Homo sapiens: one gene and its partners. The protein of the gene in region 4 purifies or fractionates together with the protein of the main gene of each other region. This does not show direct contact. Each region holds a gene or a part of one and is shown on either strand. Other genes may lie near its edges.

Region 1 (4,582 bases), on a different chromosome or scaffold from region 4:
AGGACATGCCTGGGGGTGCAGGGGTAAGAGTGGACACAGGAGTACAGGGATGACAGCAAGCAGGAGCGACTTTTGGTTCTTGGCACTACTTCACCCAAAAATACTCTGTTTTCTGGCCGGGCGTGGTGGCTCACACCTGTAATCCTAGCATTCCGGGAGACCGAGGTGGGTGGATCACCTGAGATCAGGAGTTTGAGACCAGCCTGACCAACGTGGTTGAAACCCCACCTCTACGAAAAATACAAAAATTAGCCAGGCATGCTAGTGCACGCCTGTAATCCCAGCTACTCGGGAGTGTGACTCTGTCTCAAAAAATAAATGAATAACCCTGTTTTCCCATCTGCCAGGCTTTCTGCTTTCAGTCCAAGCCCTCTGTGCCACAGGTCTCTGCCCTTCCTCCTGAGAGCCCTCCCAGCTCCTTTGGACACTGCCCTGATCCCACTTGTGATGTGCTGTCACTCTCAGTGAGCATTTATTTTCTTTCTTTTTTTTTTTTTTTTGAGATGGAGTCTCGCTCTGTCATGCAGGCTGGGGGGCAGTGGTGCAATCTCGGCTCGCTGCAACCTCCGCCTCCCGGGTTCAAGCGATTCTCCTGCCTCAGCCTCCCGAGTAGCTGGAACTACAGGTGCCCGCCATCACGCCTGGCTAATTTTTGCATTTTTAGTAGAGATGGGGTTTCACCATATTGGCCAGGCTGGTCTCGAACTCCTGACCTTGTGATCCGCCCGCCTTGGCCTCCCAAAGTGCTGGGATTACAGGCGTGAGCCACTGCGCCCCAGCCTCAGTGAGTATTTCTTAGCTCTCCTGCCAGAAGCCATTGATCACATACTGTGCTCATTTACCATGGTCTCCTGCACAGGCCTGCAGAGCAGCATGACCTCAGTGATGTGCACTAACGTGAACATCTCAAAGCAGCACTTGCTGGATGGGTCACAGTTTGCAAATGTGCACAGCACTCTTCTCTGAATGAACAGCAAGTACCCCTTGTTTGTCCTGGTTAAATATTACCATTTCTCTGAAATTAAGATTATCTTACCCCAAGTGTTTCCAAAGAAGACTTAACGGAAGAGTCAAAGTTCACCTATCTCTCTACCCAAGTTTTAACACCCAGCCTGGCTCCAGGTGCCAACCATAAAGGCAGGAATCCTATCTGGGCAGCTGTCTGTAGTCACAGTGAAGCTGTAAGAACCCTGCCATTTTCAAATTTCTTGAGACAATGCTCTGTTACACAGGAAAGTTCTACCAGGTCCATCTGGTTATTCCAAGAATTCCCAAAGTTATGGTCAAGCTGGGGCCAACCCTCTCTGGGAAGGTCCCACTGTCTGCACAGGGAAATTCAAGTAACTTTGTTCACACCCAAATCACGTTTCTGCCACCACTTCTTCCTTCCACAGGAGAGAAATATTTCAAATCCTTGGGAAGCAGCCACAACACTGAGATTATCTTTTAACTGCAAGGAGGCAATGTGTGAAAGTGATATTGTGTGACTTGGCAACTTACAAACACTGAAAGGTTTTCTCTGTTCAATGCCACCACCTATTCCACTTCCTCTCCTTGAGATCAATGCTGTCTGCCTGGGATAATCTGGCAGAAGTGCTGAGTGGGAAAGCAGCCCTAGGCACTTGCCTGGGTGGTCTGATTTTTAGTGGACTGCTGAAAAATGGACAGTACAATGACTCCCTTTAGCTTTCCACCCCTTCATCACCTGACAAGACTTAATGAGAAACTTTTGGGAGCAGACACCCTGGATCATTCCAAAGCAGAGACCGAAATACTCAGAGGGTACAAAGCAGCTGCCATAACCAACAGAGGAATTAGGGTGTGCCAGTGGAGGCTGTGAAATCAACAACACTTGGCTTGCAGTTTCCTGCTTCCTCCTAGGAGGTGGGCAAACCTCTGTGGCACACTCATATCTTAACTTCCCATTCACAGCTCTTTCTGTGCAGGAAGTTTTCTAATCATCCCGATCATAACCACACGCAAGGAAGAGGTCATAAAAGCACATGCCCACAGTGCGGGGTGGAAGCAGGCACTTAATAAAGAACCTTGGATGAGGAAGTCAACTAAATGGTGCACTGGGAGTTTCAAAGGATATAACGACTGAGCAGAAAACAGATTCCATGGTCGAATAACCTTGAGAAATGCTGGGTCAAATAAAGCTGAGCCAATGTCTTTTTGTAGGATTTCTCAGAGCCTTTAACAAACTAACAGGCCTTGTGAATCTTTATTTTGGTTTGTTTGTTTTTTGAGATAGAGTTTCACTCTATTACCCAGGCTGGAGTGCAAAGGCACTCCTCAGCTCACTGCAACCTCCACCTCCCAGGCTCAAGTGATCCCCCTGTGGCAGCCTCCCGAGTAGCTGAGCCCACAGGTGCATGCCACCACACCCAGCTAATTTTTTGTATTTGTTGTAGAGATGGGGTTTTGCCATGTTGCCTAGGCCATTCTCAAACTCATGACCTCAAGTGATCCACCTGCCTTGGCCTCCCAAATTGCTGAGATTATAGGTGTGAGCCACCATGCCTGGCCAAGCCTTGTGAATCTTTGAAAAAACAAACAGGCTGGGCACAGTGGCTCACGCCTGTAATCCTAGCACTTTGGGAGGCTGAGGCGGGTGGATCACCTGAGGTCTGGAGTTCGTGACCAGCCTGGCCAACATGGTAAAACCCTGTCTCTAGTAAAAATACAGAAATTCTGAGCGTGGTGGTGGGTGCCTGTAATCCTACCTACTCAGGAGGCTGAGGCAGGAGAATCGCTTGAACCCAGGAGGTGGAGACTGCAGTGAGCCAAGATCGCACCATTGCACTCTAGCCTGGGCAAAAGAGCGAAACACCATCTCAAAAAACATAAACAAAGAAACAAAAACGAAATAGGTAGCAATTCCCAAACCTATTTGACCACAGAACCATGAGCACCTTTCAGGACTGGCATTACTCAGAATATATATTGCTTTAAAGAACTGTCTTAAAAAGCCCAAGAATTGTTCTCCAGTGGAAAAAAAAAACCAATAATAAAAAATAAAAAAATTAAAGAACAAAAGCACAAGATCTGTATTATTCCATCCCCTCACACTGGAGAAAAAATGTAGCTTAGCTAATACTAATTTGTTACTTTCACCACTCCCAGTACTCTCAAGAATGGTGACAACTGTGATGATGTTACATTCCATTCTTTCCTTAGCCAGCCTAAAATAGCCCCAGTGCAGTTTAACACCAATGTCTGAGCTTCAAAACCTTTAAAACAGCCCTGTCCTGGGAATGAGACCCAGGTCAGCACCTTCCTGCTGCTAAACAACTGATGACTCTGGCACATACCATCCTCATTGAGGTCTTGGTTTCCTCATCTCTAAACTGAAGAGGTTAGAATAGAGTTCTAAGAATGTTCTCAGCTCTTAACAGTCAACTATGAGCTCTGAACACTAGGTATATTTTTGCAATCCACCATTTCTGTCACTGCATGACGGAAATAAAAACGACTGTTCTGGAGTGTGACTAGGTGTGACAGTTTCTGAGTCTATCGCCTCTCCACCTGCTCTCTCCTGAGCTTGGTGCCAACACCCTGAGTAAATGAAGCTGGGCTCACACCCAGGCACCCAAGGGCTACACCTCCCAACGTCCTAGCCCTGGCAGTCAAGGAAGCAGACATCACCATCTCAAGGAAAAGGTGGGCAGCTCTGACCAGGAGAAGGTTCAGAGGCCTCACATCCAAAGCTGTTTCTCCCCACACCACTGTGTGCCAAGAGGAAAAGCCCAGCCCAGGATGAGGAGGAGCAAATCGCAGCCAGCCAGCCAGCTTTCTTCTTCCCACCCAGGACTCCCCACCAGATGTGGCTGGTTGACAGGACCACAGCTGCTTCCTGTCATGCCATATCCTGGGGCTTCCTGATGGACAGACTGTCTCGCTAGAATGCAGAAGTTACTTCTACCACAGTTTGCACAGTCATTTTTGGAGCCAGAGATGAGGTTTAAGACTTTCAAGCAGCTATTAATACAGGGTAGAACTATCTTGCCCTCTGCTAACACTGGAGCAAAGCTCTCTGCATTTTTAGACAACTGACTTCCTCTCTGTCAGACAGCAGCAGACTTTTTATTTCTGATTCTGAGAGGACAAAAAAACACACATAAAAAATGGAAAATCATCACATACAACATACACCATAAGGCTACAAGATCCTACTAAAACCCAAACCCCAGTATTATACAGCAGTTTTGTAATTAAAGTCTGTTACCAGAAGACATTGGCAGAAAAAAAAAATGCAAATCTTCTTTCTTTACTCAATAGAGATGACTGTTTGCCTTACATAAGAGACAAGGTCCTTGCAAACGCTCTGTCAAGAAACATTAAGCTACGAGAGGAATGTTCAGAATTCCCTGATGTTCTAAGGAACAAGCTATCAGAATTTGCCCTGAGGGCTCCTGTTGGCTAAGACACCTTGAGACCAAGAAAGAAGCAAAACATTTTCACTCTCCTGACAGCGTATAATTATTTAGTTCAAGTCTCCTTTGATTTTGCTCTGACCCTTGAAGCGATTCAAAGTGGGAAAACTCATGCTGTGAATGACAGGAAGGACTCCTTCAAGGAC
Region 2 (4,582 bases), on a different chromosome or scaffold from region 4:
AGAGAGAGGAAGTAGGGAATGGTAAGAGTAACTTAAAAAAACAAACAAACAAACAAACAAAAAAACAAAAGGACAAGAACTGAGCTCAGCACATATCAAACCAGAAATTATAATAGGAGGCTCTGTAGCTTCTACAGACTCTAAAGTATTTTCTACAGTAAACCATTCTTTGGTTGTGTCTGCTAACAACCTCTGGATGTTTTTATTATTTCTATGAGTAATACGATCTCGGTGCATTCAACCAAATCATCACGCCTAAAGATACTTAGTTAGGTTTACAATGCCAGAAAATCTCCAGGTAGGCTGTTGGGATCATTATTTCTATTCACCAGCTACACAGACAATGGGTTCTTAAAACGGGGGCAAAAAAGCAAGGCTTGGCACAAAGGAAATATACACATTTAGAGCAAGTTCCAGAATAAGGGCCCAGAAAATACTTGTTGATTAACTGTGCATATAGCAATTTCCAAAAAAAACTTGTCCAACAAGAGAAGGAATACTTAGGATTCTCTGAAGTATCTTTGTTATTTAATGTCATTTTCCATTCATATGCTTCTAATCTCACACAACTATACTTAACATTGCATATTAATTTAATCCTGATTGTTCTCCCATTTTATTTTTATAGATCATGGGAACCAATGAGAGGAAGTATTTCCCATAAGCAAGCAAACTCTAGAGCCCCAGGCTTGGGGAGGGAGGAAACATCTGGAGGAAGATCCATGAGTAGCTTTTCAATGAGGGAGCGGGGGGGGAAAGGCAGAGGTGAATATGGAAGAGACAGTTGCCCTCAGTTTGGTCCAGGAAAAAATGCTGTGTGATATGATGATTCAGAGCATGGGCCTGAGGCCAGGCTCATATTGGTGTGAATCCTAGCTCTGCCTCTCATTTGGTGGGAAGTTTACCTCTCCATATCTTATATTTCTTAGCTCTAAAATGGAAATAATAATATCTGTCTCATAGGGTTACTGTGAATATTAAATGTGTTAGAAAGCAAAATAATGCAGAGTAAAAATGCCATTAAAATCTATCCATGTGTTCAAACTCACAAAAATATTTTAGAAGTAAGCAGGTCTAATATTCTGATGGAAAACAGACTAGTGCCAAAAAACAGAATGAAAAGGGCAAAGCCAGTATAAAATAATAATTGCTAGTAAGGTCAATGCAAAACTAAATGGTGTCTGCAGTACAGAAAGTAAATCTGTTGCCTCAGACGCATCATAAGGTTTACACACATTTGGAGGAAAACTGTATAGTTTGTGAGTTATTGCAAAGGGAGGATTGCCCAGGAACCATACGAGGCTGCTGTGGAGCAGACTCAGCCAGTGCTCTCATATCCATGGTCTCCCCTTGGGCACACAGAAAGACCTCATTTCCTAGTTTGCCTTCTCCAGGTGGAGTCATGTGACTAGGGCTTGTCAGCAAAGTGACAGGTGTCACACCTGGGACAAGGTAGTTGAGAACAGATGTGCCATCTCGACTTTCTCTTTCCCCATCTGCCAGCTGAATGGAGAGCCCTGGTGGATCTAGAGGAGGTACAGCCACCAGATGGCAGAAGCCTGGGTCCTTGAATCCTTTACATACATATCCCAGTGTTGGGACGGCATGGAACAGATGTCCCTTCCGCTGCCCACCTCCCAGTACCCTCCCAAACTAGAGTGGACTGTGTTGTGAGCAATACATAAACCACTGTGTCTAGACACCAATAATTTTTGGACTTTATTACAGCAGTTAGCCTACTCTGCCCTCTACAGTTGTGTAGAATACCAAATGTACAGTGACATGGTTAATTTCTCAAGTAGAGAAACAAGTTTCATTTCAGCCACAGAAGCAGATTGTACTATGGGACTCCAAAGGTGAGACAGACTATCCTAGTACTAAGAGATCTGGATAGTACCCAAAGAGGGAACAAAGCAAGGAGAGGTTTGAATTATGCAACCCCAGTCTTGCTGGTTTGTGAACATCCAGCATATTGCAGACTGGTTGCTTCTTCCTCTGCTCTGCTCAGCGCAATGGAGTTAACAAACCATGTGGTTGAACGTGATTGAACGTGGCCTCACCACTTCCACATCACTGCTGATGGAAGCCAATACTAGAATTGGGCTGAACTCCCACTCCTGCAGTATTGGCCTTGGAAAAGGAGGCATTCGAGTGGATTTCTGCTCATACTATTATCCCTGCCTTTGTTATTACCACAAGGGAGCTGGATCAATCTAGAGGAGGGAACTAGAGACAATGAGATAGGGCAGGCAGTTTGGAAAATGCCAGGCACATAGTAAAGGCTATCACTTACTATGATATGTCAGGGGGGAAAGAAATGGAAACACCTAGAACTGACATCAGGAGAACCTTTGGTCCCAGGGAATTTATCCTACTGGGGACAATAAAATCATTAACATCTCACATAGTCCTTTACTTTAAAACTACGTCTGTGAGACTGCTGTTCTACTGACAATCAGGAAAAGAGAGGGATTTGGTTCAGAGGACACATGGTCCCTACCTATATTGATCAGCTTTGCTGGGGTGATTAACAGCCTCAAATCTTTATAACTTAAAGTGATAACATGTATTTCTTGCATACGGGTTTGTGGATAGCTGTGGCTCAGTTGGGGTCAGCTCCAGAATGTAGGTCAGAATTAGCTCATGCCACATGCCCCTCCTTCTAGATCAAGCTGCAGAGGAAACAGCCACCTGGGGCGTGTTCTTACGTTGCCTGGAAGCTGCACAAGAGGCCAAGTCAAAACATGCAGGTACATTTACATCCTTGTTTCAGTGTGCCACAAATCAAGTCCACTCATCATTCATTGGCCAAAACAATGGGACAGGAAGATTTACTCCTCCCACAGAGCAGAAGGAGGGGAAAATGAAGATTCAATAGAAAAAAAAAAGGCAACAGGCCAATTTCTAAATCCTCAGGAGAAAAGAAAGCATCTAGCAATCTGCTCACGGAGTATGGAAATTTTTTTTAGAATGCTTACAGGGCTTAAGACCCGGCCCCCAACCCCAATCATTACACACTACACGAATAAGGACAGGCTTCAGTAATGATCCCCAAAATCTCAGTGGCTTATAAGAACTAAGGTTTAATTCTTGTTCATAGTACTTGTCCTTTACAGGTCAATTGTGCCTCTGTTGCCTGTTGTTTGTACTCTAGGACCCAGGCAGATAGAACTGTTTTTTGTTGTTGTTGTTGTTTGTTTGTTTGTTTGTTTTTAACATTGCTGGTTTTGTGGTAGAGAGAAAAAAGGGGAATAGTGCACCACAAGCTGGCTCTCAAAGCCACTGCTCAAAAGTGACACAGATCACTTCCACCCACATTTCACTGACTGGAACAAATCACATAATAACTCAAATTCAACAGAGCAGAAGGGAGTGCCAAAAGATACATGGCCACACCTGAGACCAATGACTGGAGAAATATTTGTATTCCAGGGAGGGGCAGAAAATGTACTCCAGGGAGGGGCATTTTGAACATTAATGCAATCTACCACACCCACCTAGGACACAGGAGCTGGGATCAGATCCTTCATTCAAGATTAGATGACTGCTTTGCTGAAAATCCAACCACATGGAGTTATGTAGTCATTCAGGAGTATGTTCTTGTTTACTTTTTAAAACATTTTTTTAAAAGATTTAACCAATTGTTGCACAGTAGCCTGTGGTGTCCAATGGCACCTATAATTTATTTCACCTTACTGATCTGGTTTTAAGAAGAATGGCCAGCTGGATGTGGTGCCTGAAGCCTGTAATCCCAGCACTTTAGGAGGCTGAGGCAGGTGGATGGCTTGAGCCCAGGAGATTGAGACCAGCCTGGGCAACATGGCAAAACCTAGTCTCAACAAAAGATACAAAAATTAGCCAGGCATGGTAGCATGTTCCTGTAGTCCTAGCTACTCAGTAGGCTGAGGCAGGAGGATTGCCTGAGCCCCAGCAGGTCGAGGCCGCAGTGAGCTGTGATCGCACCACCGCACTCCAGCCTGGTTGACAGAGAAAAACCCTGTCTCAAACAAAAACAAACAAACACACAAACAAAAAAAGATAAAAGATAAATGGCCTTAGGGGAACAGATATAAAAACATAGGATTTTTCACTGCTAGTTTGGGGAAGGAGTTTTTTTACTCCCAGCCCAATCATAAGGGTGAGACAAGAGGGCTATGTCTATGTTACCACTCTGATTGTCTTTTTCCAGAATTCCAGTTGCCCATGATGTCACAGGCTGAGGCCCACACTCCAGAGACACTGTGGACTGACTGGCACCTATGAGCTGACCTAATAACAGTTACACCATTACAGCTCCGATTCTACAGAACAATACATATCCAGTTCTTATCTATGCTTTGCATGTGCTCTTTGAAACACAACCCTTCCCTAAACAGAATTCTCTACCTGTTACCATATCTAGAGTGTAGGGCTCAGGGAAGACAGTAAAGGACACAGACTCTGAGAAATGAACATGAACTAGGGCTTAGATGAATAAATGGAGCTACAACAATAGTTATATTTTAGTGCAACTTCTGAAAATTAAACTAAAGGATCCACGGGTGTGGAAGACACAATACCAGGGTGTGAGTCAGGGGATGAG
Region 3 (5,137 bases), on a different chromosome or scaffold from region 4:
CAAGTAGCTGGGATTACAGATGTGAACCACCATGCCCGGCTAATTTTTTGTTATAGAGAGAGGGTCTCACTATGTTGTCTAGGCTTGTCTCAAACTTTTGGGCTCAAGTGATCCTCCGGCCTCGGTCTCCCAAAGTGCTAGGATTACAGGTGTGAGCCACTGTGACCAGCCACAATGTGTTCTTCATTCCTAAGTCCAGAAAGGCCCACCAGGGAAAGGAAAGTCCTCACCAGAGAAGAGACTGGTGGTGAGAATGATGTTCCACACCCAACGCTCGCCTCCAATCTGCCGGTAGAAGTGGCTGGACACGTAGCCAGAGATGCAGCAGGTCAGGGCATACAACAAGATGGCTGCTGAGTTAATGGCCCCATGACGGTGCACATTGAACATGCCCAGCAGTGCCATGACAATAATGCCTGCAGGACGGTAGCGGAAAGCCCAAGTTAGGCCTCACCTGTGTCTCTTCTAGCAATTTCAGAGGAATCAGCCCCCCTTCTCCCAGACCCAGGGCCTCCAGCAAAACAATCTCCCCCAGTTTTGCTATCCAGAAAATCTACAATAGAATACGTGCATTCTTGCTAGAGCCACCCTATCCCTTAGGTCTGCCCCTCTGGATAGAAGAGAAGATCCACAGACCTTTTCTGAACAAACTCCCTACCTAGTTCTATCCCATGAGATAAATCCCCAATTCATTTTTATCACCTCACCAGTGCCAAGGGCCAGGAACTGGGCACCCACGCCAAGCACAGCACAGAGCAGACCACGGTATGGGGGGAAGCGGAAGACATCTGTATGGATAATTTTCCAGCCATTGTCACCCTGGTCAAAGTCATCACCAGAACCTGCAGAGGTGGTCTCCTCATCTAAGTTGTACCGAGCCAGGTCATTCCGAAGCACACGCATTAGAATGACAGCCACAAAACCCACCAGTAAAAACACAAGCACCATGGAGTTGATGATGGACAACCAATGGATTTCCAGTGTTCGAGGAAAGAAACCACCATCGTCACCACGGCGCCTGTCACTCCGACGCTCCACTGAAGTCTCAGACCAGCGCACGCTATAAGTGTGGGTAAGGCCTAGGAACTCGTCAGGTCGTAACCCATCCAAGCTGTGGGGCTTGACGTCCCGCACTGAAACATTGGCAAATATAATTCGGTCTCCATGGAATTCTAGGTGGAAGTCCAAATGGGTCCAGAGTCCTATCTTGTGGCTGTGTGGCAGGAAACCACTCTCCTCCATGTAGCCCACAAAGCCCCGGATTGGCAAGTCATCTACCACAAATTCAAAGTAGTACAGTTCTTCAATGGCCTGGCGCAGCTGCTCCACCTATAAAGAGCAAGTCAGGAGTTGGTCACACAAGATCTCCCCAGGCGCAGAGTTACAGCAAAGTTTCTCACCTTCAGCACTACTGATATTTTGGGGTGGATAATTCTTTTTTTTCGAGATGGAGTCTTGCTCTGTCACCCAGGCTGGAGTGCAGTGGTGCGATCTCGGCTTACTGCAACTTCTGCCTCCTGGGTTCAAGCAATTCTCCTGCCTCAGCCTCCCGAGTAGCTGGGATTACAGGCGCCCACCACCACACCCAGCTAATTTTTGTATTTTTAGTAGAGACAGGGTTTCACCATGTTGGCCAGGCTAGTCTCAAATTCCTGACCTCATGATCTGCCTGCCTCGGCCTCCCAAAGTGCTGGGATTGGTCGGGTGCGGAGGCTCATGCCTGTAATCCCAACACTTTGGGAGGCCGAGGCGGGCAGATCACGAGGTCAGGAGATCGAGACCATCCTGGCTAACACGGTGAAACCCCGTCTCTACTAAAAATACAAAAAATTAGCTGGGCGTGGTGGCGGGCGCCTGTAGTCCCAGCTACTCGGGAGGCTGAGGCAGGAGAATGGCGTGAACCCGGGAGGTGGAGCTTGCAGTGAGCCGAGATTGCGCCACGGCACTCCAGCCTGGGCGACAGAGCAAGACTCTGTCTCAAAAAAAAAAAAAAAGTGCTGGGATTACAGGAGTGAGCCACCACACCCAGCCTGGGTTGGATAATTCTTTGTCATAGTGGGGTTATCCCGTGCACTGTAGGATGTAGCTTTCCTGGCCTCTTCCCATTCTATGCTGGTAGTACCCCCCCAGCTGTAACAACAAAAAATGTCTCCAGACATTGCTAAATGTCCCTTGGGGGACAAAACTGTTCCCTGTTGACAATCACTGGGTTAGACTCTAGTATGTTGAGATTCTCCAAAAAAGAGCAAGTATGGCTTGACAGGGTTAAGGCCTAGAAAAAGGAGAGCGGTGAGGTATAAGGAGGTCTGGAGTGGACTAAGGAGAAGTACCAGGATTCACTAAAGAAAAAGCATGACAGGGAAGTTTAGGTAGAGACTACAGGAAACAGCTAAGAAACAGCCAAGAGGTAGGCATGGAAGGAAACAGAACTATGTGGGACTGATAGTTGGGACCTCATGACCAACAGAGAAGCTTGCAGTAAGAAACCCTGGGCTCTGATATCAGTTCTGCAAATCACTGTCCATGTAATCTTGAAAAAAGTAACTTCTGAGCAAGTATGTATCTTAGTCAACTGAATTAGAATAGCATCACCTAACCTGCCTGCCACACTGGGTTGTATTGTAGTTAGAATCAAATCAGACAATTTCCATAAAGGTACCCTGAACCATAAATGTAAGGCACTGTTAGTCTCTGGGAAGGAGGGCTACGTGATAGCCAATGTGGAGAGGCTGACCTGTGCAGAACTGAGCTGCATGTGGCACAGAATTCTCTTCTCCACGTTTTCCCGAAAGCGGATCTCATACAAAGACTCAGCCATTCGGTCCCCATCCAGCACTTCACCCAGGCTAAGGCTTTTGTGACGTATCTTCTCAGGGCAGCAGACTGGAAGCTGATAGTAGTGGTAAGTTTCCTGAGGGTTATGGTAGGGTCCCACTTTGTTGACATACAGAATAACAGGGTCGCCGGCCTTGTAGTGTGTCACGCCTTCCACCCCTGGCCCATGGCCTGTGCCCAGCAACAGTATCAGGATTGGCAACCACTGGCAGCTCCAACTTCGAGGGTTCCCTACGACTGTCATCCTTAAGGCAGTGGAACCTGTTTGGGGGAATCCTGAGGTTATAGAAACCAGGGAGGTTACAGAAACCCCAGGTCAGGTGCCTCGAACTGAGGTCCCCTGGCTCCACTTGCTCCCATTGGCCCCCTCCCCGCCTCACCCTACCCCACGTCTCTCTATCCCAAAGACCCCGCTCCACCTCTGCTCTCTCATCCTCCCAACCTGGGGTTCACCCCACCCGCAGCCCGTCTGGCCCGGGGCCTCTACTACGCGCCCTGGCCCGTTTCCATGGCAACGCCGCTCGGTCTCGCACCTCGGGTCCCTTCCCGCCACAGCCCCGGGGTCCTCACCGCGCGGGAAGGGCTGGCCGAGGCGGCGCCAGCGGCCTTCGCGCCCCCGTAGCTGCCTTTGGGCTCCTGCTGGGGTCTCTCCCACAGCGGCGCGGTAGCGGCGGGTTGGAGAGGACCTGCCGACCGACTTCTACGGGGTTGCCCGTTGCTGCGCCTGACAGCGGCGGCTGCGGCTACACCGCGCTGGACACCGCTCTGGCTTACTCAAGAACTCCCCGTTGCGCCTTCTCCATCTGGAGGCCCGGCCCAGCTCCGGGGACCCCGTGAGGCTCGGCTTGCCCCGCCCGTCTTCGGCGAGGCGGGGGTCCTCCCGGCGATCGGCAGCGCGGCCCAGGACACGTCAGTCTTACCACTTCCGCCCTCACCGGCGGCGACCTCAGCCTGGCGGAAAGCTCCTTGCCTGGAACGCAGAGGGCCTTCGCTGCTGCGGCCCCTGGGGACTCCTTCGCGACGGCTTCCCGGGGAGGGGGCTGAGGCCTGGCAGCGAGGACCCTGACACCCCTTCGGGAGAGGAGTGGCTGCTAGGCCGCTCGCTTGCTCCTGGAAAGATTTGGGGTTTGAGAGCTCTTGGCCAGGAGGCTCGCGCTGGCCGAGGCCCGAGAGCTGTCCCCGCGGGACGGGACTAGCGAGGGCCGGGGAGATGGAGCGCAGGCGGCGTCTGGGTTCGAAGCACTTTCCGGCTGAACCACCTGCTGCTGAGGCTGAGCCCTGAGAGGCGGTTCGTGGCCCCCAAACCGGGGAAGGGGCGAAGCTTTGGGCATCTGTCCCATGCAAGGGTCCCAACATCTGAATCTCACCTCACTCGTCTCCCACCTGTCACGAATGGCCAGCGCCAAAGTGATAAATATGTAATAGGAATGTCTTCCCGAGGCTGTGCTGGAGACTTCCCTGGCCGCACAGTGACCGTTCAGAGCCCACGATAAGCAAGCCGAAACCCGGTTTGGCGCAGAGGCGCGCAAGGAGAGAGGTCTGTCCTTTGACTCTGTGAGTTGGGCAGCCTAACATGGTTATTGTTAATTGACGGTAAAGTATCTCGAGGTCCGTTAGTCTATGTTTTTGTTCTTATTTATCACTGTGTATGTCTTTGGGCTTCTCTTCACTTTGTATGGCAGATTATTTTGAAAAAGTTTACCCTTGTGTTTGTCTCAGCTGTTTTAAAGGGGATCTGCCGTCTAGGGAGTTCCCCTTGAAAATCGGACCTTTGAGCAGTGACTTCTGTTTTGCCACCTGGGAGCAACGTGTAAGGAAGTGGACTTAAGCTTCTCTCTCCCCAGGGGAAGAAGCACAGTGGAAAAATCACAAGTGACTTCTGGCCTGAAAAGCCCTTAATTTACCTGCTTCTACAATTACTGCCCTTTCTGACCCAGTTCTTTCCCTGCAGATATAGGTGAGGTTCAAAGAAGCAGATGGTGGAGTTTTGTTAGACAATCAGTGAATTTTCTAATTAGAAAAAGAACTGAGGTCGGGCGCGGTGGGCTCACGCCTGTAATACCAGCACTTTGGGAGGCCAAGGCGGGCAGATCACCCGAGGTCGGGAGTTCGAGACCAGCCTAACATGGCGAAACCCTGTCTCTACTAAAAATACAAAAAAATTAGCTGGGCCTGGTGGCGGGCGCCTGTAACCCCAGCCACTTGTGAGGCTGAGGCAGGAGAATAGCTTGAACCTGGGAAGCGGAGGTTGCAGTGAACCGAGATCAGGCCATTGCACTCCAGCCTGGGCAACAGAGCGGGA
Region 4 (5,307 bases):
GGCGCGGTGGGTCATGCCTGTAATCCTGGCACTTTGGGAGGCTGAGGTGGGCAGATCATTGGAGGTCAGGAGTTCAAAACCAGCCTGGCTAACATGGTGAAACCCCGTCTCTACTAAAAAGACAAAAATTAGCCGGGCGTGGCAGTGCTTGCCTGTAATCTCAGCTACTCCAGAGGCTGAGGCAGGAGAATCCCTTGAAAGTGGGAGGCAGAGGTTGCAGTGAGCTGAGATTGCATCACTGCACTCCAGCCTGGGAGACAGAGTGAGACTCTGTCTCAAAAAAAATAAAAAATAAAAAAATAAAAAAAGTGTTTTGTCCTTTGAGAGCCATTTTTGGCTTTGATAAGGGACATTAGGAGGAGGAGCCTGGCCCAGATACCCAGAGCGGAGCTGAGACTGGATGCTGATGCAGGCCCCCGACTCTCCTTATACCTGCCTTGCTGTGGGACCCTGGTCCTGTCGGGACCTCAGTTTCCCTCTCTGTGTAGGAGGTTGTTGGGTCGGCTGATGTATCTGAGGGACTTGCTTCTTTAGACAGGGTCCACCCCAGTGCCTGGTGCCTGGGGGTGCTCAGATGGTGCTTGTTGGTTGGTTGAAGGAATGAGTGGGTAAATGGACTGGAAACTGAGGCAGATACTCTGGCTCACCTCTCACTTATGCACACGGGATGCCCCCACCAGCTCACTTTCACACATACCCTCACACCTACACTCAGAGATTCATGTGCATTCACCATCGATTGTCCACCCCTCTTCACCTGCATGCTCCCATGAACTCATACGCTGCCAACCCACACCAGCCTGGGTGAAAAAAAAAAAGAAGAAAGTATGTCCAAATTTGAATCTAATCAAACCTGTTTTCAGAAAATACAGGAGACAGAGGAATAGATTAAAGGACCTCACAAGGAAGCAATCAACCAAGTCCAGAATATAGAACATTCTACTGGACAATGGAGCCAGTTCTCTCCAGAAATCAACCGCATGAACAAAAAAACAAACACAGGGCCAGGCTCAGTGGCTCATGCCTGTAATCCCAACACTTTGGGAAGCTGAGGCGGAAGGATCCCTTGAGCCCAGGAGTTTGAGACCAACCTAGGCAAAACAGGGAGACCCTATCTCTACAAAACACGGTCTCAGGGAGCTTCCACCTCCACCCCCACAGATCTGTTCCCATGGGGTTTCTGGGCTCAATGTTTCTTGGTCTCCAGGGAGGCCCTGCCCTGTCATGCCCCTGACCACAGTGGCTCTTCCGAGCTCCTCTCTTCTCCCTCCACTTTATATCCCAGCGGGCATTCTCTTTCCTCCACTCCCCTTCTTTTATTTTCTCTCTCACCCCCATCCAGAGACGCACAGACCCAAATGTGCACAGGCACATGCTCGCTGTCTGTGTCTTGTCATCTCGTCTTTTGTCTTGGATCTTACCTTGTCTTTGTCCCTGAATCTCCTTGTTCCTCTCATCTCTCCCGGTGTTTACATCTGTCTTTTTCCCTGAGCCTCGCTCCCTCCATCCATTCCTCCGCCCTCTCATTTTTTTTCCCGACTCCCTCCTGCCTCCTCCCTTTCTCCTTTGATTTTCCTGGTCCCTCATCTCTCCTCCCTCCTCTTTCTCACTCTCATGCTCCCTTTTTCGCTCTCTTGAGTACATGCACTTGCTTTCTCTCTCTTGCTTTTCCTCTTTCTCACCTTAGCTCCTGGCCTCGGGCGCTGTCTACACCCCACCCCATCCCTCGCTCTTTGAGAAGCCTCTGTGCAGTGCCCAGGTCCTGGCGGCCCAGCTTGGAAGTTCCTGTGGTACCCCTTGAGAGGCCCTAGGGCCACAGCATTTCCTCCCAGGGGTGACTTGGTAGTGATACGCTCTGTTTCTTCACTTCTGCAATTGCCAGACAGCATAGAGGCTGAGGCTGGGGCCAGGACCCAGACAGAGACACACGGTCACTGCAGCTGAAGCCGCTGCCCCTGCTACAGGTAAGGGGGAATCCTGGCCCCTGCTGGGCAAGGGGGAGGCATATAAAAATGTCCTCAGGAGGCAAACCAAGGTCATGCCCCCAGGCTGCACCTAAGCAGATGGGTGCTTCTATTTCTTTTCTTTTCTTTTTTTTTTTTTTTTTTTTTGAGACAGGGTCTCTCACTCTGTTGTCCAGGCAGAAGTGCAGTGGCGCGATCATGGCTCGCTGCAGCCTGGACCTGCCAGGCTCAGGTGATCCTCCCACTTCAGCCTCCCGAGTATCTGGGACTAGAGGCATGCTCTACCACGCCTGGCTAATTTTTGTATTTTTTGTGGAGACGAGGTCTTGCCTTGTTGCCCAGACTGGTCTCTAACTCCTGGGCTCAAGCAATCAGCCTGCCTCGGCCTCCCAAAGTGCTGGGATTGCAGGCTTGAGTCACTGTGCTCGGCTGCTTCTGTTTTTAAGGGATTTTTCTGGCACCTTTCTCAGGCCCAGAGTCTCATGTTTAGAAATAACTTCTAGTGTCCAAACATTCCTGGAGAACCCAACACCCAAGTTTGGCTTTTCTGAGGCTGGGGCAGTGCTGACCCCAGAGATCCCACTGGGAGGTGTTGATGGTGGTGATGGTGGCAGTGCTGACCCCAGAGACCCTACTGGGAGGTGGTGATGGTGGTGATGGGGGCAGCTTGGATCTCAGGGAGCCAAATGACATCTACTTGACTAGCTGTGTGGTCTTGGCCAAGTTACGCTCCATCTCTGTGCAGTTTTCTAAATTGTCAAATAATGATAATCCCATCTCCCCCACAGAATTGTCGGGTCATATAAAGGATCTGGTACAGGGCGGGGTACTTAGGAACTCACTAAATGCTAGGTTTGCGGGGTGGGGAAGGGGGTGCTGAAAATAACCAGGTTCTTATACACAGGGCCAAGCCCACAAACAATAGCCCCTATCAGGTCCCAGGTGCTGGGGACAGGGCCCAGGCTGGCACCCACCGTCCTCTGCTTGCAGGAGGTCCAGACATGGGGCTGTGCACTCACTCACTTGTGAAATATGACAGAACCAGCAGGCTCTCTCCCCACACCTCTGGCTGCTCTCCTTTAGCTCTGACTGAATACCCAGCTGTGTTCCAGGTGTTTGGGGTGGTGTGTGTGTTGGGGGAGGCGGTAGGGGTGGGAGGTGTGTTGGGGAGTGCTAGAGAAGCAAAAGAGACACCACTATCTTTAGGTGCTGACAAACCGCCGGAGAAAGAGTTCAGCCCCTTAGATGACTGGGTCCTGGGCCTCAGGTGGGCATCCGGGGTTTCGATCTCAGCTCCTGCTGACAAGCCGGGGCCTTGAGTTGTTCGGAAGTTCCACTTTCCTCCTTTGCAGATTGCAGGTTAAAATACTGACCTCTGTGGGCCGGGCATGGTGGCTCACGTCTGTAATCCCAGCACTTTAGGAGGCCGAGGCGGGTAGATCACGAGGTCAAGAGATGGAGACCATCCTGGCGAACATGGTGAAACCCCATCTCTACTAAAAATACAAAAATTAGCTGGGCGTGGTGGCGGGTGCTACTCGGGAGGCTGAGGCAGGAGAATTGCTTGAACCTGGGAGGCGGAGGTTGCAGTGAGCTGAGATGGCGCCATCGCACTCCAGCCTGGGCAACAGAGCGAGACTCCGTCTCAAAAAACAAAACAAAACAAAACAAACAAACCACTGATCTGTGAGTTTGCAGGGAGGATGAAGTAAGAGTTGGGATGGGGAAGTGCTTTGTCAATTGGAAAATGCTGCGCAAAGGGGACTGATGAATTCCCTCTAATGCTGACTCTGGGATTCCTGCTGTTAAACGCCTTAGGGATGAGGAAACTGTTTTGTTCACTGTTGTATCCTTTATCCTTAGCACAGGGTTTGCAACATAGCATATGCTTAGAATATGCACAGGACAGATGAATGATGAAGCGGTTTTTGCAGTTGGAAGGGAACGGACGGTGAGCCAGAGGCCCAGTATCTGGTCCCAGCTCTGCCCCTGACACTGTGTTCACCTTGGGAAAATCCTTTCTCATCTCCGGGCCTCAGTTTCCCCATCTGGTCATTGAAGGAGTAAGGAATTCACAGTTTATGCTATCAGTGACAAAATGTGCCTACAGGACTGAGTTTTCTCTGACTGGTGGTGGGAAGCAGGTATGAGGAGAGGCTGGGATCTTATTGTCCTTTTACAGGGAGCAGAGATTCCCCACTTCCCACCCCAGGCCTGTGAAGGAGGCCTTGTTGAAGAGGATGGCATTCTCTTTCTTGGTGGCATCCCCCACTTTCCTGTTCTGATCCCCTAGATGGGTGGAGGCTTGGACCTCAGAGAGGGCAACAGTGGAGCAGGAGCCGGCAGCACCCCTTGATGGGCCTAGGGGTGTGTGTCTGGGTCGGGAGCAGAGCCAGCTCCCAAAGGGCAAGTGCTGGGACCCTGCTGCAGCCCCCTCTCTGACCACCCCCTCTTGGGCTCCTTGACAGCATGATGAGAGCGGGGAGAAGCCTCTGGTGTGTCTTTGTGTGTGCATGTGTGTCTGTGGTTATGTGGGGTGGACAGGGAGCTGGCTCTGGCTATGTCTACATGTATCTGGAATGATGGGCCGGGAGCATATCCGGGCTGCATGTGGCCTGCTCCAGCCAGACAGCTCCCCTCCCAGGAGCAGATGGCCAGCAAAGCCAGCTGAGAGGCTGATATGCCTCTGTGTGTCTTTGGCCGAGGGGAATCACAGCCAGATTCTGTGTGTGTATTTGTTTGTGTGTTTGTGTGTGAGAGAGAGACAGAATATGCAGGGGGAGGATCACCACTCAGCCACCCCTCCCCACCCCCTTGGTTCTGTAGGTGGGAGATCTTCAGGGCCTGGGTTTGGAGTTGAGCTTGGCTGGCTAATGGGAGAAGCATGTCAAAACCAAATTTGTGCATACCCCGCCCCCCCTCCTCTTTTTTTTTTTCTTTTGAGACAGAGTCTTGCTCTGTCACGCAGGCTGGAATGCAGTGGCGTGATCACACCTCACTGCAGCCTCGATCTCCTGGGCTCAAGCAGTCCTCCCACCTCAGTCTCTCGAGTAGCTGATACTGTAGGTGCACACCATCTTGCCTGATTAATTTTTGTGTTTTTGTTTTTGTTTTTGTTTTTGTTTTGTTTTGTTTGTTTGTTTGTTTTTTGTAGAGGTGGGGTTTGACATGATGCCCAGGCTAGTCTTGAACTCCCGTGCTCAAGCAATCCGCCTGCCTTGGCCTCCCAAAGTGCTGGGATTACAGATGTGAGCCACCATGCCTGGCCTACACCCCCCGCACACCCCCCCCCCTTTTTTTTTAAGAGACACAGTCTTGCTCTGTCACCCAGGCTGAAGAGCAG
Region 5 (3,500 bases), on a different chromosome or scaffold from region 4:
AAGCTTACTAAACTGGAATTTTCAAGATGGGTCTGGGAATCTGTTTTTTAAGAAATTTCCCAGGTGAACCTGGTCACTTGGATACTAGGTCTGGTCTGATACTAGCTGATCAACTGTTTCCAATTTAATAAGTAAATAAATAGGTGTAAATTACACCATATTTTAAAGAACCAGTATTCAAAAAATAATGTAAAATATCTCATTAATAACTTTTAATATTGACTACATATTGAAATAATTAATACTTTGGATATATTGTGTTAAAATTAAGAGACACACACTACCTGATATTTACTTTCAGGACTGAATTACTTTCACCTGTTGAAAAGCTAGCCCAGACCAGTGGTTTGCAACCCTGACTGCTCATTAGATACACCTGTGAACCTTCTAAAACCAAAGTGTCAATACCTAGTCCCTACCTCATACAATGGAATGTGACTGCATATGGAGCTCAGACAGCACAAGGTATCACACAAGTGATTCCCACGTGTAGACAGGGCTGGGACTGAACTAAATGCAAATATTCATCTAAGAGTAAAACTCTTTACATATTACATACAATTTTCTCCTGAAATAAATGAGCCAGATTAATCTGGAATCAGAAAAACTTAAATTAATAAAAAACAAATACGATCCCCCAACCATTAGCATTTAATCAAATAATGACAATGATTGTTGCAAAAATTAAGTAAAAGATGTATATCTCTAATGCACATTAACTATTTTAATTGTCTCTCAACACATAAAATTAAATACATTTAGCAAGGATCAAGCTAAATTTTCAAATATCTGATTTTTGTCACAGAAACAGAATTTTCTGAAATGCATTGCAGAATTATATTAGACAGTTAATGTGCTATGAAACAGCATAAAGTCATTTTTTCCGTGTCCAAGTAACAATAGGAATCTGCTGTCTCTCATTCTAACCTGCATCTGTTTATAGCTCTCCTGCTCTCTCTTCAGAGTGGCATCCGCTTCATGCAGTCTCTCCTGAAAAGTCTGCAGAGCTTGATTCTGCAGGCTGTTACCTTCACTTTGATCCTGCATTATTCTAAAGGAAAATGCATCATGTGAAATAACTCATGTCTACAGTGTACAAGTGATAAGGCAGAATAATTTTTAGAGCGTCAGCTTTAGTCAAGCACAAAAAAGATAATTTGACTGAAATATTCTTAGATAAATCTTTCCTTTCTAATGGAACATAATCTACATTTTTAGGCATCCAAATATTAAGTACATACCGTATAATGAAAGATTAATGACACAACAAATGCTTTTAAATTCAGAATTTGCTAACAATGCATCTCAAGGTTCAAACAATGAATCCATTTTATGTTGTTGTTGTTGAGATGGAGTTTCGCTCTTTTTGCCCAGGCTGGAGTGCAATGGCACAATCTCAGCTCACTGCAACCTCCACCTCCTGGGTTCAAGTGATTCTGCTGCCTCGCCTCCTGAGTAGCTGGGATTACAGGCATGTGCCACCACCCCCGGCTAATTTTTTTTCTGTATTTTTAGTAGAGACGGGGTTTCTCCATGTTGGTCAGGCTGGTCTCGAACTCCCAACCTCAGGTGATCCACCTGCCTCGGCTTCCCAAAGTGCTAGGATTACAGGCTTGAGCCACCACGCCCAGCCAATGAATCCATTTTAATCATACACATTTCTAACACTACCAAAAGAAATATTCCCTCTTGTAAATTTCCAAGAAAGCTAAGTTTCATAAGTGGATACACTACAATGTTTACCATTACTTGCTCATTTTTTTCATTATTCATAGAATCACCTACCGTGATTTTTCACTCTGTAAGGCTTCTAATGCTTCTGTGCGAGTACTCAGTAGCTGGTCAGCTTCCTGGAGTCTCACTTTCAGTACAGCCAGCTGGGAATCCTTTGCAGCCACAGCTTCAGTCAGGTCATCTACTTGGGCTCGGAGTCCTCGAGTCATTCGATCACTCTTTGAATGGTCAGCATTCCACTTTTCAACTCTTGCTCTTGCTTTGTTTAATTCTATTAAAAAATTTAAATTTCTCTATACAAGCAAAACCAAACACATTTTTCTCAGAGCACGTACAGTTTCTACTTTGAGTGCCTTTAGTACTTTCCTTATTGACAAAATTGGGAACTTACACGTCTTCAATTTTCTTTGCCCCAAAGGGTCATCCACTTTTCAAGGGCAATATTCACAGCTAGATTATAGTTAATTGATTAGAAAGGGGCGTGAAGCTAGCTGCTCTTCTACAATGCTGTTTCTATATGATAAAGCATCTGGGAGCCGAAACTAGTATTAATAGATAGCAGAGTATATTTTGTAAAGTTCTGCTAGTGACAGGGAAAGGAATGCAAATCCAAATCAAAGGTACATCCTAGTAAGAACAAAACAAAACCTAAACACAGAAAAGAATCTATTGCTTTCAATTACTGTTGCAAAAAGATGTTATTCTTTTGACCTAGGAAATCAATGCAAAAAGAGCAAAGTAGTGCTCTATTTCAGAATACAATGGCATTTCCATACCCTCACATACCATATGTAATTGCAGTTAGCCACCACAACATTTTAAAAATACTGAATCAAACTTTATAGGGTCTCAAAGCTTTTTTTTTTTTTCCAGTGAGACACACCTTTCTTAAAGAAAAAAAAAAAAACCCAAAAACATGAGACAGAGCCTCACTCTGTTGCCCCGGCTGGAGTGCAGTGGCATGATCATGGCCCATGACTCACTGCAACCTCCAACTCCTGGGCTCAAGCAATCCTCCCACCTCAGTCTCCAAAGTAGCTCAGCCTACAGGTGTACACCACCATATTCAGCTAATTTAAAACAAAAAAAAATTGATTTTTGTAGCCCAGGGGTCTCACTCTGTTGCCCATGCTGTTATTGAACTCCTGGCTTCAGCAATTTTCCCATCTCAGCCTTCCAAAGCGCTGGGATTACAGGCGTGACTCACTGTGCCTGGCCAAACAGCTCTATTTCTATGTCTAAATTAGTGTGGGTAAAGTAAAGCTTTTTCTAAAGTCAGCCTGACTAGTGAGTACTTTGTTTTTGTTGTTGTTGTTGTTGTTGTTGAGACGAGTCTCGCTCTGTAGCTCAGGCTGGAATGCAGTGGCACGATCTCGGCTCACTGCAACCTCCACCTCCTGGGTCCTGGGTCTGGGTTCAGGCAATTCTCCTCCCTCAGCCTCCTGAGTAGCTGGAATAACAGGCACGCGCCACCATGCCCAGCTAATTTTTTTGTATTTTTAGTAGAGACGGGTTTCACCATGTTGGCCAGACTGGTCTTGAACTCCTGACCTTGTGATCCGCCCGCCTCGGCCTCCCAAAGTGTTGGGATTACAGGCGTGAGCCACCACGCCTAGCTTAGTGAGTCTTCAACTATCTTCCCTTTCCTCTCTTCTAGGCTCTATCCATGGCTTGGCAAAACTTTTCCCACCATCCCCTCACTCCTTTCTAATTAGCCCCAGGAACCAAGGCAGCAATTTTGTCACTCGTTTTCTTCTCAGCCACAC
Region 6 (4,582 bases), on a different chromosome or scaffold from region 4:
TCTCTTGCTTACTGGGCATATTGCAGTGTCTTGCCTGTAAATTTCCTGTTCATCATTACATTCGAAATTTTAGATTTTTTGGTTTTATTTATTTATTTATGAGACGGAGTCTTGCTCTGTTGCCCAGGCTGTAGTACAGTGGTGTGATCTCGGCTCACTGCAACCTCTACCTCCCAGGTTCAAGTGATCTCCGGCCTCAGCATCCCGAGTAGCTGGAACTACAGGCACCTGCCACCAGGCTCAGCTAATTTTTGTATTTTAGTAGAGACAGGTTTTCACCATGTTGGTCAGGCTGGTCTTGAACTCCTAACCTCAAGTTATCTACTGTCCTCTAGTTTTTTTTTTTTTTTTTCCTTTGGAGACAGAGTCTTACTTTGTTGCCCAGGCTGGAGTGCAGTGGCACGTTCTTGGCTCACTACAACCTCCGCCTTCTGGGTTCAAGTGATTCTCCTGCCTCAGCCTCCTGAGTAGCTGGGATTGCAGGTGCATGCCACCACACCCAGCTAATTTTTGTATTTTTATTAGAGACGAAGTTTTCACATGTTGGTCAGGCTGGTCTTGAACTCCTGATCTCAAGTGATCCACCTGCCTTGGCCTCCCAAAGTGCTGAGATAACAGGTGTGAGCCACCGTGCCCAGCCCCGACCTAGTTTTTTTTAAAACAAAGAGATTTTGCATGAATTCTTTAAACTGTGCCATTTTTTTCAAGTTTGTTGCAGATATTGTTTGCCATTGTGGCCTTCTGTTTTGTTTATGTATTTGGCATGCAGAATAGTTTTACAATTTTTAATGTCAAATCAATCAACTATTTTTTGTGATTTCTTCCACGGTTTTTATGCTTTAAAATTAGAAAGGCCATCCCTATCACTTTGGGTGAATAAAACTTTTTTCCTTACTTTTTTGGTATTACATTTTTAGTATTAAAAGTATACTAGGCCAGGCGTGGTGGCTCATGCCTGTAATCCCAGTACTTTCGGAGGCCGAGGCAGATGATCATGAGGTCAGGAGACTGAGACCATCCTGGCTAACATGGCAAACCCCGTTTCTACTAAAAAATACAAAAAGTTAGCAAGGTGTGGTGGTGCGTGCCTGTAGTCTCAGCTATTCGGGAGGTTGAGGTGGGGAATTGCTTGAACCCGGGAGGTGGAGATTGCAATGAGCCGAGATCACACCACTGCACTCCAGCCTGGTGACAGAGCGAGACTCCGTCTCAAAAAAAAAAAAAAAAAGTATACTAAACTGTTTTAGTATTTTGAGGTTTCCTCTTTGAATGATAATATACACAAACATATGCACACACACGGTCCTCCTCCCCTCCCCATCCAACTTCATCCCTCCCCAGCCAAGACCTCGTACAATGTCATCCTCCTTGTTGTAGTTGGCAATGTCCTTCCGGAGGGTCCGAATGATAATCATGCTCAGGATACCTGAAATAGATGGCGGTGAGGATGAGGAGAAGTTGGCGCTGCCAGCAAGCCCATGCTCCATGCCCTCCTAGACATGATGTTTTACTGTGCGACAGCTGGCATGCACGGCTTGCTCCATTATGAACTGGCTATGCAGCCACCTCAAGGCCTCTTCTCGGGGGAGCTCCACTCCAGCTACCAGGGGAGGAGAGCACAGAGCATGGAGGTGGGGAGGAAAGGGTTGCTGGGATGGGTAGGGGTATCCTGGGGAGAGGAGCATCCCAGCTGTTCCATCGCTTGGTCCTACTGACTTCTCAGCTCATGTGTCCAAGGGCTGCCTGTGGCTCCACCTCTGGCTATCTGCTGCTTCAGTTGGCTCCTGGCCTCACTATGTTCTCATCAGCACGCCTTTCTTCAAGCTATCCTTTTTGCCCAGAATGCCCCGCCATATCCTGACTGACTCCTACGCGTGCTTCGAGGCTCACTCTGGGCATCTTCACGTCCCAGCACCCTGAACAGTACAGAGCCACTCCCACCCCCATTTGTACTTTCCTGTTTCCCTCTCTAGGCAGCACTGTAGTGGTTAAGAGAATGGGCCATATGACCTTGAGTTCACTTAACATTTTCGGGCCTAGTTCACAGGGCTTCAGGGATTGAAATGTTTGTAAAGTGCTTAGTTCAGCAGCTGGCCCTTTGGTAAATGTTTAATAAACAGTATTTAGCATTATCTGTGCTTCTCATATGATAGTGAAACCATCAGTGTCATTCTACCCCTGCCTACCACCCTCTCACCACCCGGTTTCTTGCTGAGCTTATCTCGCTGCAGGACCATGATCCTCACTGGCACAGACTTTTCCCAGGTCTCTGGATGGTGGCTCCTTATCGTAAAGAAAGGTCTTCCCCAAAGAGCCTTCACACTTTCCTCAGCTATTGTGTATTTGGCCACCCTGTTGATCTGCTTCATAGAATGTATCACTATCTGGAACTCCACTACTTATTTGCTTTTTTGTTTCTCTCCCACCACTAGAATATAGGCTCTATGGGAGCAGAGACTGGGTCGGGCTTGTTCATACCATATTCCCAGCATCTGGCAAAGTGCCTGGCACAGAATGAGCAACAACAACATCTTGTTGAATGAATCAAGAATGTGTGCAGGCTCAGGTGTGTCTGTCCTCCATGAATGAGCTCTCCAGAGTTCTAGAGCTCTCTAGAGATGAGTCTTGTTTACCTATGTACACCTGATGCTTAGCAGAGCCCTGATGTCTGTTTTTGACCTACGCCTGACCCTCAGAACACCCTGGAAGTCCCCCATACATGATGTGATGTCTCAGTCCCTCAACCCCAACCCCCATCCCCTTTCCCTCAACCCACAGATCTCTCACCTGACAGGAAGAAGACCACAACAACGGAGTTAATGATAGAAAACCAGTGGATCTGGACGTCACTCATGGTCAGGTAAGTGTCCCAGCGAGAGGCCCATTTGATATCACTTTCCTGGCAGGTGGGAGGAAGCACTTAGAGTCAGGCATCCTGCTGGAGAACCTGACACAGACCAGAGCCCTCCTCCCCTGCCCATGAGCTCCAGCCCCTTCTCACCTCCCAGTGGACAGAGTAGGTGAAGTACAGCTGATTCTCCTTGGTGGGGTCAATTTCTTGGGGCGAGGAGTTGGTACCCTCAGGCAGAGTGCACGAACTCTTCTCATCTGCTTTGAGGTCTGAGAGAGACACAGACTCAGTCTGTTCCTGTGGTGGCCAGTGCCACTGCCCAGGGGCTATTCCAGGGGCTGCCCTCAAGGCTGCCTGTCGCGGAGACCCAGCCTCTAGGGTGGGAGTGGAGACTGGGAGCACAATGGGCAACAATGGTTTTTTTTCATTTTTTATTTTTAAACCTTATTTTTTTAGAGATAGAGTTTTGCCCTGTCACGCAGACAATGGCACAATCATAGCTCACTGCAGCCTCAACCTCCTAGGCTCAAGTCATCCTTCTGCTTCAGCTTCCGGAGTAGCTGGGACTACAGGTGTGTGTCACCACACCTGGCTAATTTTAAGACATTTTTTTGTAGGGACAAGGTCCTTTTATGTTTCCCAGGCTGGTCTTGAACTCCTGGCCTGATGCAATCCTTCTGTGTTGGCCTCCCAAAGCGCTGGGATCACAGGTGTGAGCCACCATGCCTGGCCAACAATGGTTTTTGAAAATTATTCCTCAGAGCCCTGACTTTCTGAAGGTCCTTAGGGGCTGCAGAGAGGCCTGTGCATGGGGGAAGGGAGGGGCCTGAGTCGGAGTTCCTCCCTGAGTCAGTGTTCCTTCACTCAATTCAAACGTTCACCTACCATCCAGCCAGTCCCATTCAACATAAAACCTTGATCCATTCCATCATGCCTACTCATTCATTTAGTCTATCTCTAAAGCCCTGGCACTTTCGTGATCAATCATTCAGATGTTTTCTCCATTCATTTGCTCATCTGTTCATCCTGTTATCCATCTACTCATTCAACCAACAACATATAATAAGCACCAACTATGGGCCAGGTACTGTGCTAGGTGCTTAAGATAAAATGGTGAGCTGGGCGCGGTGGCTCACGCCTGTAATCCAAGCACTTTGGGAGGCCAAGGCAGGCAGATCACGAGGTCCGGAGTTTGAGACCAGCCTGGCCAACATGGTGAAACCCCGTCTCTACTAAAAATACAAAAATTAGCCAGGTGCGGTAGTGGGCGCCTATAATCCTAGCTACTTAGGAGGCTGAGGCAGGAGAATTGCTTGAACCCAGGAGACGCAGGTTGCAGTGAGCGGAGATCGCGCCACTGCACTCCAGCCTGGGTGACAGAGCAAGACTCTGTCTTGGGGGGAAAAAAAAAGATAAAATGGTAAGAAAAGGAGACAGGGAGACTCTAAGCTTGAAGAGCCAGTGGGGGAGCAGGTGGCCTCAAAAGCGTCACACATGCAAACGTAGAACTGCGCTCGGGAAGCTCCCAGGGGAGATGTGCTATGGAGCTCTTGAAGGGCAGGATCTATGTTTGGGACTTCTGTGTCTAATTTTGTTTGAACACTAAGTTCCACAGTGGAAAAAAAAAAAAAGTCCAAATACCACCAACATGGTCAAAATCCTGGGCATGCTGCTTAATTAAAAAGCACACTGTGATGATCAAGGGCCAAGAGGTGAGGCAAAGCCGGACCA
Region 7 (3,250 bases), about 16 Mb from region 4:
GTTCTGCTTCCTTTTCCAAGTCCTGGTCTTGGGCCAGAAACTAGAAGCCGCAGGCATCCCTGTGGATGTGATGGGACACTTCCCATTTCTCCAGGGTGGGATCTGGGCTCTCTGACTACTTGGGGGCACAGACGCAGAGCCTAATATACCTCTCTACTGTCACTACAGTTTAAAAAGAGAAGATAAAGGAGAAAAGAAGAGAAGGGAGGGGAGGGGAGGAAGAGTAGAGGGGAGGAGACGGGATACAGGAGGAGAGAAGAGAAAGGGAAACAGCTCAGCTCTTTGGGAAACATTTTCTTCTACAACTGCTAACAAAGGCCTCCCCCTGGAATCCCTGCTGGTCTTTCTCCTGAGGAAGCACAGAAGGCCGGGCGGCAGGGCACAGTAGGCAGCCTCACCCCGCGACAGCAATGCTGATGCTAAGATGCTGCCCCGATGACAGTCTTGCAGCAATGATGGCCAAAATCACCGCTTCCAGGGGCAAACATGTCTCAGGAAACTTGAGGGCAATGCTTCTGTCCTGTGTCCTATGCTAACGAGATGGCCACTCTGGTCCGAGGCCTGGAGCAAGGGGCTGACCTCTGCATGCCATGAACAGGCACATGGGGGGAAGCTGGGGATCCCGCCAGCAGTTCAGACAGAGGCTTCAAGTCAATCTAGGGGCTTGTTGCAGTTATTTTTATTTTATTATTATTATTATTTATTATTTATTTTTTATTTTTTTGAGACAGAGTCTCACTCTGTCACCCAGGCTGGAGTGCACTGGCATGATCTCGGGTCACTGCAACCTCCGTCTCCCGGGTTCAAGCAATTCTCCTGCCTCAGCCTCCCGAGTAGCTGGAATTACAGGCATGCACCACCATGCCCAGCTAATTTTTGTATTTTTAGTACAGATGGGGTTTCACCGTGTTGGCCAGGCTGGTCTTGAACTCCTGACCTCAGGTGATCTGCCCGCCTCAGCCTCCCAAAGTACTGGGATTATAGGCATGAGCCACTGCACCCAGCCTCATTATTATTATTTTTAGACAGGGTCTCACTCTGTCACCTGGGATGGAGTGCAATGGTGTAATCACAGCTCACTGCAGTCTCAAACTCCTGGGCTCAAGTGATCCTCCCACCTCAGCCTCCTAAGTAGCTGGGACTACAAGCGTGCACCATCACGCCTGGCTGATTTTTAAATTTTTTGTAGAGACAAGTCCTCGTTATCCTGCCCAGGCTGGTCTCAAACTACTGGGCTCGAAGGATCCTCCCACCTCGGCCTCCCAAAGTGTTGAGATTATAGGCATGAGCCACCAGGCCCTGCCTCTAATTTTTTTTTTTTTTTTTTTTTTACTTTTATTTGCTTTTTTGTTTTTTGCTTTTTTGAGACAGGGTCTTGCTCTGTTGCCCCAGCTAGAGTGCAATGACACAATCATAGTTCACTGCAGCCTCAAACTCCTGGGCTCAAGGGATTCTCCCATCTCAGCCTCCCAAGTAGCTGGGACTACAGGCACAAGCCACCACACCCAGCTTGCAGTTATTTTTAAATGCTGAGATTTATGATGCGGGAGGAGGGGAGGGCTGCCCTGGAAAGCCAGAAGACCATCAATTCACACCTGGATTTCCAGCTTTCCCTTCCTCGTCGTCTCCTCTCAAAACACTTGTGCGCGCTCTCTGGTGTCAAGGGCTGAGGGCATCAGGACACCCATTCCTGCCCAGGCCTCACCCCCCCTCGCCAGGCTAGCCCCTTCCGAGACACAGGGCTGAGAGCAAGGCCAAGGCCTCGGGTTTCGACCAGATGGCGGCTTCCTACCTTACTCCTGAAGAGGGGCTTGGCTCCAGGCCCACAGTACTCGTTGTAGATGAGCTTGAAGAGGAAGAGGTGGAAGAGGGTGATTAGGGAGGCCACGCTGAACCAGAAGAGGAAGGGCAGCCCGGGGTCCTGCTGGGCCATGTGCTCATCATGGGCCAGGATGGCCTTGAGGTGCAGCGTGTGCCGCAGGTCCTGCAGGTGTGTGAGGTCGGTGGAGATGTAGAGCAGTGGCGTGATGGGCTGTGTCACCATGACCGAGAAGGTGTGGCCCGTGGGCGCCGAGGTCAGCTCCACTGGCTCGTCCAGGCAGCCTGCCTTGCAGGCATAGATCTTGACAGGCTGGCCACGGGACTCCACGGACACGTGTAGGTAGGGCTTGCCCTCGGCATCCGCCAGCACGGCCAGGTTGATATGGTCGTTCTTGTAGCGGATGCCATGCAATGCATAGCTGTTGTGCAGCACGTCGGGGTCGGCCTGGAACTGGAGGTGGTTCTCTGTGAACTGCAGCCCCCCAAAGCTGAGCACCATCCCCTGCAGGATGCCTGGGGCACCCACCTTCACCAGCCCCTTGCAGCCACGCTTCTGGAGGGTCAGCCTCCACAGGTCAGAGAGCTGCAGGATCTGCTGGACGGAGGACAGCCGCCCCGGCCACAGGTTCTCGGCGTGCATGGTGGCGTGCCCGCTGAAGCAGTGATCTTCATAGTTGAGCGTCGACTCCATCTGGTCTCGCTCCCTGTGGCTCAGGGAGGGGCTGAGCAGTGGGGCTGGCGAGCAGGAGAGCATGTAATAGAGCGTCAGGTTCACGGTGAGGCCAGACGGCGTGTGGGTGTCAGTGATCTTCTTCATTTCCACTCCTGCAACACCATGAAAGCGGCATGTTAAGGGGGAAGGACAGCTGGGAGGCAGAGCATACGAAATAAAGACCAAGGGCAGCAGAAGAGTGAGGTGTTGTGCCTTAATGATAAAGACAGTGGTGCCCATCTCCCTAAAGTATAGAAGAAAGTCAGCCTGTCTTGTTTACACGACCAACTTGAGCCTGTGGGCCTGAAATCTAGAATCCTGTTAAAAAGCAGCGGGGCCTGGTGCCAGAGCCCAGAGGAACACAGACTTAGCCAGGACTTGGCACCAACCCTATGGTCAGACATCCTGCGCCAGATCAGTCACCAGTGCTGAGGCCAGTCTCAGGCCACTTCTCCTCTCTGTCCTTTCTCTCTCCAGTCTTGTAGCTTTATGTATGTATGTATTTATTTGTTTATTGAGACAGAGTCTCACTGTGTTGCCCAGGCTTGAGTGCAGTGGAACGATCTCAGGTTACTACAGCCTCCGCCTCCCGGGTTCAAGTGATTCTCCCGTCTCAGCCTTTGAGTAGCTGGGACTACAGGTGCAGGCCACCACCCATGCCTAAAACAGCCCTGGCAGAAGCATTCAATAGACACTTGCTGAATAAACACGTGCTGG

Evidence for each region.
Region 1: the proteins of PTAFR (region 4) and SCAMP2 purify together in Homo sapiens (affinity purification with mass spectrometry; one large-scale study listed by BioGRID and IntAct). This does not show direct contact.
Region 2: the proteins of PTAFR (region 4) and PGAP4 purify together in Homo sapiens (affinity purification with mass spectrometry; one large-scale study listed by BioGRID and IntAct). This does not show direct contact.
Region 3: the proteins of PTAFR (region 4) and TM9SF1 purify together in Homo sapiens (affinity purification with mass spectrometry; one large-scale study listed by BioGRID and IntAct). This does not show direct contact.
Region 5: the proteins of PTAFR (region 4) and GOLGA5 purify together in Homo sapiens (affinity purification with mass spectrometry; one large-scale study listed by BioGRID and IntAct). This does not show direct contact.
Region 6: the proteins of PTAFR (region 4) and TM9SF4 purify together in Homo sapiens (affinity purification with mass spectrometry; one large-scale study listed by BioGRID and IntAct). This does not show direct contact.
Region 7: the proteins of PTAFR (region 4) and KIAA2013 purify together in Homo sapiens (affinity purification with mass spectrometry; one large-scale study listed by BioGRID and IntAct). This does not show direct contact.

Annotation. Positions count from the first base shown.
Region 1 is NC_000015.10:74,866,315-74,870,896, forward strand, and holds part of SCAMP2 (secretory carrier-associated membrane protein 2), read right to left. Parts: intron 1-4,582. UniProt on the Homo sapiens protein: Functions in post-Golgi recycling pathways. Acts as a recycling carrier to the cell surface.
Region 2 is NC_000009.12:101,477,174-101,481,755, forward strand, and holds part of PGAP4 (GPI-N-acetylgalactosamine transferase PGAP4), read right to left. Parts: intron 4,334-4,582; exon of another isoform or gene 4,190-4,333; intron 3,553-4,189; exon of another isoform or gene 3,498-3,552; intron 2,751-3,497; exon of another isoform or gene 2,667-2,750; intron 1-2,666. UniProt on the Homo sapiens protein: Golgi-resident glycosylphosphatidylinositol (GPI)-N-acetylgalactosamine transferase that catalyzes the N-acetyl-beta-D-galactosamine transfer from an UDP-N-acetyl-alpha-D-galactosamine to the 4-OH-position of the first mannose of the glycosylphosphatidylinositol (GPI) of a GPI-anchored protein (GPI-AP).
Region 3 is NC_000014.9:24,191,941-24,197,077, forward strand, and holds the start of TM9SF1 (transmembrane 9 superfamily member 1 isoform a precursor), read right to left. Parts: upstream 3,502-5,137; 5' UTR 3,406-3,501; intron 3,097-3,405; 5' UTR 3,080-3,096; coding exon 2,735-3,079; intron 1,330-2,734; coding exon 708-1,329; intron 417-707; coding exon 231-416; intron 1-230.
Region 4 is NC_000001.11:28,173,249-28,178,555, reverse strand, and holds the start of PTAFR (platelet-activating factor receptor), read left to right. Parts: upstream 1-1,865; 5' UTR 1,866-1,964; intron 1,965-5,307. UniProt on the Homo sapiens protein: Receptor for platelet activating factor, a chemotactic phospholipid mediator that possesses potent inflammatory, smooth-muscle contractile and hypotensive activity.
Region 5 is NC_000014.9:92,807,805-92,811,304, reverse strand, and holds part of GOLGA5 (golgin subfamily A member 5), read right to left. Parts: intron 2,006-3,500; coding exon 1,786-2,005; intron 1,052-1,785; coding exon 928-1,051; intron 1-927. UniProt on the Homo sapiens protein: Involved in maintaining Golgi structure. Stimulates the formation of Golgi stacks and ribbons. Involved in intra-Golgi retrograde transport.
Region 6 is NC_000020.11:32,143,629-32,148,210, reverse strand, and holds part of TM9SF4 (transmembrane 9 superfamily member 4 isoform 1 precursor), read right to left. Parts: intron 3,121-4,582; coding exon 3,002-3,120; intron 2,900-3,001; coding exon 2,788-2,899; intron 1,427-2,787; coding exon 1,356-1,426; intron 1-1,355. UniProt on the Homo sapiens protein: Associates with proteins harboring glycine-rich transmembrane domains and ensures their efficient localization to the cell surface.
Region 7 is NC_000001.11:11,920,844-11,924,093, forward strand, and holds part of KIAA2013 (uncharacterized protein KIAA2013 precursor), read right to left. Parts: intron 2,647-3,250; coding exon 1,793-2,646; intron 1-1,792.